2 linked regions of the Homo sapiens genome follow. The protein of the gene in region 1 purifies or fractionates together with the protein of each later gene. This does not show direct contact. Each region holds a gene or a part of one and is shown in the gene's direction. Other genes may lie near its edges.

The links.
Region 2: the proteins of ARNT2 (region 1) and FNTB purify together in Homo sapiens (affinity purification with mass spectrometry, with the first as the bait; one large-scale study listed by BioGRID). This does not show direct contact.

The regions. Positions count from the first base shown.
Region 1 is NC_000015.10:80,473,844-80,477,663, forward strand, and holds part of ARNT2 (aryl hydrocarbon receptor nuclear translocator 2), read left to right. Parts: intron 1-1,166; coding exon 1,167-1,380; intron 1,381-3,820. UniProt on the Homo sapiens protein: Transcription factor that plays a role in the development of the hypothalamo-pituitary axis, postnatal brain growth, and visual and renal function. Specifically recognizes the xenobiotic response element (XRE).
Region 2 is NC_000014.9:65,059,706-65,063,281, forward strand, and holds the end of FNTB (protein farnesyltransferase subunit beta), read left to right. Parts: intron 1-1,475; coding exon 1,476-1,607; 3' UTR 1,608-2,945; downstream 2,946-3,576. Other genes in the region: CHURC1-FNTB protein, read left to right, coding at 1,476-1,607. UniProt on the Homo sapiens protein: Essential subunit of the farnesyltransferase complex. Catalyzes the transfer of a farnesyl moiety from farnesyl diphosphate to a cysteine at the fourth position from the C-terminus of several proteins having the C-terminal sequence Cys-aliphatic-aliphatic-X.

The DNA.
Region 1 (3,820 bases):
TTGCCTTCACTCTGCTGGCTGTCCATGTGCTTTACAGTGGGGTTTTCACATAAGATTACATTCAAACAAAAGATTGCCAGCCAAAAGATGTTTGCTAGCTGCTGACCTAGAAGGATACCTTTGTCCTCTGGAGCCTGAACAGTACTTGAAGTGGTTGGAAGGGTGGCCATGGATTACAGTGTCTAGGGAAGACTTAGTGCCTGGCTCCTGCAGGCACAAAGCCCATTTCATTCAGTGGCAAAGGGCTCCTTAGCTTGATGTGAGAATAGTATGGGCAACTATACTTGAGCTGCCTTCAGGCGCTGCAAAGAAAAGACATCTTGTTTTAACAAAGTTAATTTTGCCCCATCCACGTCCTTCTGAGGATAATATCAAGGCTTCCTGCTGCCCCTTCCTTGATCCCAGTTTCCTCCCTGCCTTCAATGACAGTCATGACCCCAATGAATCAATGTGAGCTGAAGGTTGATGCTCCTATCCTCTTCTCACTGTAAAGTGATATGGATAATGCTGTATTCCCTGCTGCCTCCCAGAGTTACTCTGAGAGTCTTTTGAGATGATGGTGATTATTGTCAGTTCTGGAAATCTGACAGAAATGCAAATGTAAGGGGATACTCTTATAGCCAGTGCCAGCATTCAGCTCAGAAATATGGAAAGAGAAAAGGAACAAGAGGGTACTTTCAGTACGGCAAGCTGTGGGTGGGGAGACACGTGGTCTCTTTCGTTCTCCCTTCTCACCTTCCCCTTCCCCTTCCCTTCCTTCTATCTAGCACCTTTTGTGCCAAGCACTATGTGTTGGGCCCTTCTGCTCCAATGACATGACTACAGTTTCAATATGTGGCAAAGCTGTTCACGCCTCTGGCAACCCAGTACCTTCTGGTGATCACTCATTGCTCTCCCATCCCCCTAGGCTGGAAATTTTCTCTCCCCAACAAAGGACTAATGAAGATGGGCTAACCGTGTTTACAGTAGCTGTATCGTAGGGATGGTGCAAGCTTTGTGCATTTTTCTAGCTTATTTTCCAGAAACAAAGTTCTCATTTCCCAAACTATTTGTGTACCAGAATAAATATGCAGATAAAGGAAATTGAAGGCTGCTTTCCCAATAAGAAAGTTGAATCATCCTGGGTCTGTCAGTGTATTGTGCCAATCATAATCTTTTCTTTATAGGAACTGAAGCATCTCATCCTTGAAGCAGCTGATGGATTTCTGTTTGTGGTGGCTGCTGAGACAGGGCGAGTGATTTATGTGTCTGACTCCGTCACCCCTGTTCTGAACCAGCCCCAGTCAGAGTGGTTTGGGAGCACACTGTATGAACAGGTGCATCCTGATGACGTGGAGAAGCTGAGAGAGCAACTGTGCACCTCAGAAAACTCAATGACAGGTCAGTGGAGCTCCCTTTATGAGGCTGTTTGACTCTAGAAAACATTCTTGGCTGGGCATGGTGGCTCACGCCTGTAATCCCAGTACTTTGGGAGGCTGAGGCGGGTGGATCACGAGGTCAGGAGATCAAGACCATCCTGGCTAACATGGTGAAACCCCGTCTCTACAAAAAATACAAAAACAAAAAATTTGCCAGGCGTGGTGGTGGGCGCCTGTGGTCCCAGCTACTCCGGAGGCTGAGGTGGGAGAATGGCATGAACCTGGGAGGCAGAGCTTGCAGTGAGCCAAGATTGTGCCACTACACTCCAGCCTGGGTGACAGAGTGAGACTCTGTCTCAAAAAAAAAAAAAAAAAAAAATTATTTTAGTAAACAGGCCAGGAAACTGGAGGCCATAAAAAGCTGCCTAAAGGTGAGGGAATATATGTGAGTTGGCCTGTGTGATAGCTTCATTCATTCGATAACATTTAAAAATCCATTTTTACTACATCACATTTTTCTGTATTTTACCTGCAATTAGTATACATTACCACTAGAGGTTGTCGTTGATATATTAGCCAGATCCATATGCCCTGTTTGAAGTTTATCCAATAAGCATGTGATTTTCTGTGATCCTGACCATAAACATTCATTACCCAGGCCTTAGTTACCTGAAATCTAGTTCCTTATTGAAATGTTTAAATATAGTCAATTCTACTCATACATGTTTCTAAAAATCACTGCAGTATACACAATCATGCAATTCAAAACTATAGGGCTTATCGAGAAAAAGTGGTTTAGAAGAACAACACTCAATAATTTGTCAGATAAAAGCAAAAATAAAAACCTATTATAAATGGTAGCACAGCTTTAACATTAAGTGGTTAAGAAATGTATACATCTTACCACACATATGGCAGTTGAGTTTGAAAATGACCTAAAGTTTGCTTAAGAGGTGGTCTCAGAAGGTGTGGTCATTTGTATGTTATTGCGAAATGGTAGGAGGACAGTCATGTGAAATCAGACGGAGAGTTTTAACTCCAAATGTGGATGAGTGTGGCTAATAACACACCGTGGGCCGAGAGAGCTGACTGATGTCTGAGGTATGTGAATTTTGTGTATTTCCGTGTGGCCCGGTTCAGCTAGGCACAACCTTTCTATGTTCATCTAGTTTTTCTTACAGATAAGCAAACACAACATTCACATTATGCTCAGATTGTTCCTTAATATGTCAATCACATTGGAACAAATTTGCATTGTTGAAACAAGAGTTATAGAAGCATTATACCAAAATATTTGCATTCTGCTCTATGACAGATATATTTGTGTTGTCATTCTCCCTGACCATATTGTGAGCTGTTGTATTCCCACTTGCTTTTGTGTCTGCCCACAGTGCTAAACTCAGTGCTTTGCCCATAGTAGGCCTTCAGCAGAAGCCTGATGAATTAGTGAGTGTGTTGTTTATTGTGGTCAGCCTAGGATGCCATAACAAAATACCACAGAATGGGTTACTTAAATAACAGAAATGTATTTTCTCATAGTTCTGGAGGCTGGGCATTCAGTGTCCTAATCCATTTGGGCTGCTATAACAAAATACAATAAACCGAATAGCTTTTATGTAACAGAAATTCATTTCTCACTGATATGGTTTAGATCTGTGTCCTCACCCAAATGTCATGTTCAATTGTAATTCCCAATGTTGGGGGCAGGCCCTGATGGGAGGTGATTGGATCATGGGGGTGGGTTCGCCTGAATGGTTTAGTACCATCCTCTTGGTCCTGCTCTCGTGATAGTGAGTGAGTTCTCACAAGATCTGGTTGTGTGTAGTACCTTCCCACTCTCTCTCTTAAGAGTTCCTGCTTCTGCCATGTAAGACACCTGCTTCCCTTCACCTTCCGCCATGATTGTAAGTTTCCTGAGGCCTCCTCAGAGGCCAAGCAGATATCAGCATCATGCTTTTTGTACAGCCTGCAGAATGGTGAGCCAATTAAACCTCTTTTCTTTGTGAATTACCCAGTCTCAGGTATTTGTTTATACAATGGGAGAACAGACTAATACAGTCAGAGTTCTAGAGGCTGGGAAGTCCAAGATCAAGGCACCTTGATGTCTGGCAAGGGCCTACTTTCTAGATGTTGCCTTCTAGCTGTGTCCTCACATGGTGGAAGGGACTAGCTATCTATCTGGGATCTGTTTTATAACAGTACCTAATCACCTCCTAAAGGCCCCATGTCCTAATATCATCATCTGGGAGATTAGAATTTCAGCGTACGAATTTGGGGAGAGCGTAAGCATTTAGTCCATTGCATTCAAGATCAGTATATCATCAGGTTTGTTGTCCCCTAAGGCCCTTCTCCTTGATTTGGAGATGGCCACCTTCTTGCATTCTCACAAGAATTATAACCAGCCTAAGTGTAGGTCTCTCCTCTGTGTGCACGAATCTTTTGTGTCTCTGCCTCTTCTTATG
Region 2 (3,576 bases), on another chromosome or scaffold:
AAGTTTCTTTTGGGTTTCTGTGATGTACTAGAATAACATCTATTTAATTTAAATTTCATATTTAAATTTTGTTTATATATTTAAATATGATCTGACAGCCTTACTACATATTAGGGTTGTGGTCCTTTTTTCTTTTTTTTTTTTTTTTGAGACAGAGTCTCGCTGTTGCCCAGGTTAGAGTGCAGTGGCACAATCTTGGCTCACTGCAACCTCCGCCTCCCGGGTTCAAGCAATTCTCCTGCTTCAGCCTCCCAACTAGCTGGGATTACAGACACTCACCATCATGCTCGGCTAATTTTTGTATTTTTGTAGAGACGGGGTTTCACCATCTTGGCCAGGCTGGTCTTGAACTCCTGACCTCGGGTGATCCATCCACCTCGGCCTCCCAAAATGCTGGGATTACAGGCATGAGCCACCGCGTCCGGCCCCCTTTTTCTTGATTATAAATGTAAATACATGTTTATTGTTTTAATAATTGGGATACATAAAATATAAAAAAGAAAATGAAAAACAATCATATCACTATTAATATTTTGGTATGGGTACAATTTTTGCTATTTATATACATCACAGGTACAAATACACTTTTTAAAAAGTTTGAGACCAGGTGTGGTGGCTCACACCTGTAACCCCAGCACTTTGGGAGGCCGAGGCGGGTGGATCACCTGAGGTCAGGAGTTCGAGACCAGCCGGACCAACATGGTGAAACCCTGTCTCTACTAAAAATACAAAAATAATCCCAGCACTTTGGGAGGCCGAGGCGGGCGGATCACGAGGTCAGGAGATCGAGACCATCCCGGCTAAAACGGTGAAACCCCGTCTCTACTAAAAATACAAAAAATTAGCCGGGCGTAGTGGCGGGCGCCTGTAGTCCCAGCTACTTGGGAGGCTGAGGCAGGAGAATGGCGTGAACCCGGGAGGCGGAGCTTGCAGTGAGCCGAGATCCCGCCACTGCACTCCAGCCTGGGCGACAGAGCGAGAGACTCCGTCTCAAAAAAAAAAAAAAAAAATACAAAAATTACCCAGGCGTGGTGGCTCACACCTGTAATCCCAGCTACTCAGGAGGCTGAGGCAGGAGAATTGCTTGAACACAGGAGGCAGAGGTTGCAGTGAGCTAAGATCGTGTCAATGCACTCCAGCCTGGGCAACAGAGCAAGACTCTCTCAAAAAAAAAAAAAAAAAAAAAAAAACAGTTTGAGATAGTATTGTACATACTGTTTTCTCACATAATATGTTGTAAGTATTTGCCTGTATCGTTAAATATTTAAATGCGTGTTTATAATGGCTGTATATTAACCTGTGTCCCATGTACTAGATAGTTTTAGCAAATACACCATTTTTGAACCTTTGGGCTTTGTGTGTATCTCTGATTCCTTATACTAAATTCTTAGAAGTGCCTTTCATGGAGCAAAGGATGTGTTATGTTTTCAAGGACCACCGGGGTGATTAACTGGCACCTTTTCTTCTCTTTGCAGCAGCCCACTCACCCAGTGTACAACATTGGACCAGACAAGGTGATCCAGGCCACTACATACTTTCTACAGAAGCCAGTCCCAGGTTTTGAGGAGCTTAAGGATGAGACATCGGCAGAGCCTGCAACCGACTAGAGGACCTGGGTCCCGGCAGCTCTTTGCTCACCCATCTCCCCAGTCAGACAAGGTTTATACGTTTCAATACATACTGCATTCTGTGCTACACAAGCCTTAGCCTCAGTGGAGCTGTGGTTCTCTTGGTACTTTCTTGTCAAACAAAACCAATGGCTCTGGGTTTGGAGAACACAGTGGCTGGTTTTAAAAATTCTTTCCACACCTGTCAAACCAAAAATCTATCAGCCCACGTGGTGTGGTTGGTGAACAGTGCATGCCAGGAGGAAGCAGTCCCTCCTCACCAGCTCTCCAGCCAGGACGATCACACAGAGATGAATGGCATCTGAGTATTACGGCATCCAGAGCCACTGCTGACTCCCACTTGCACGCCACCATTCAGTCACCAGACTGGGTGCCCTCCGATGGGTGGAATAAGTCTGCTTCATGCCAAGGCTGGGCTTTGGGTCCCACCAAGATGAGTTCTCTGTAAGACTGTGGTGGAGTTGCACCAGGAGGTGCCTCTGCCTCTCGACTTGCACCCTGGTCATTTGTAAGGGAAAAGAGCTGGAGGTGGGGAGAGAAAGATCTCCTTCAGTTGGGAGTCCTTCCACTTCAACACTGGAGAACTGAGCCTTGCATCTCTCCAGGGTCCAAGGCCACGCTTGGTGCACAGGCAAGACTTGCTTCAGCCCCAGGTGTGGTGACTTAGACCTAGGAAACCAATTATGAGTGGAAAGTGACCCTCTAGTTCAACTGTGCCAGAGGAAACAGCCCTCCAGTGCCCACCTGCCTCACTCCTCCCTATCATGTACCGTGAAAACCCCCTCTGATGGCCTCAAGGCAGTGCCTGCAGGCCGAGGCCCTTCTGGGGGTTTCTATCTTTCTTCCACCAGACTCCAAGCCCACTCTCCTCCAAGACTGTGTTGTCTTTTCTCACCAAGAGTATTAACACTACTAAGTCTTTCACCTTAACTTATGACTCAGGATTTATTCACGTCCTGCCCACTCTAGGCTCACAGGAATAAAATCAAGTGCTAGACACACTGGCTGCTACTAAGGCACTAGCCTCTGTAGCTGGTGGTGGCAGCGTGGGGTGCCGCCCAGCGTGCTGGGTCCTGGCAGTGCCTCTGCTGTGCTGCACATTGAGCCCTTTCTCAGTCAGTGGAGTATCAAGTTGGGCCATCTGTCTACTGACCTGGCCTTCATGTAAGCAGCTGTGGGCTGCGGGCAGACAGGAGCTCAGAGATGCAGCATGAGGCGCTTAGAAAAACCTGGCCATTTGCTGCCTCTAATTCCCTTTTGCTTTGCCATATTGGGCTATGTATTACCTCCTTGAAATAATAAAAGAATAACATTTTCTATGATGTCTCTTATTTGTGATCTGTACCAAGAAAATGCCCAATGGTAGGAGCTACTAAAGGTTGCTCAGGGATCGTCAGTCTCCTGTGTGCAGGATTCCAGACTGTTCACATCGGTGGTGACAGAGGAATGACCGAGTTCCATCCTCACATGCCGTCTCCTCCAGTAGAGGAAGCCGTGGGCCTAACAGAGAGTGGGAAGAGATGTTTTCCAAGCTCCCTGGGGTAATTCGGTATGCTATGTCCCAGCCCTCCACACACTGCACTTCATGGTCTGTCTCCGACAGACAGCAAGGACTGGGCCTAGTAGCCCCAGAGCAGGCTGACTTAGCAAGGGTGGGTGGATGTCTGGCCAGAGGCAGGGGCTGTCACAGGGACAGGCTGGAACTCTGTGGCCACTTGGCTTTCCCTTCCTCTGGCGAGAGACCCTCTCCCATGGGAGGCCAAGAACATGGATGTCCTGTGGCCTGACCCTCTTGGAGGGGAGAGAAGATGGTGTCCTTAGAGGGCACCCAAATCCATGTAAATAAGCCAAATGCACATCCAGGAATGTAATTCCTGCCCCCTGTGCTATTTTTGCCCTGTTAACAAAGGTTTGCACTGCAAGGCAACATATTGAAATGCATCCTTTC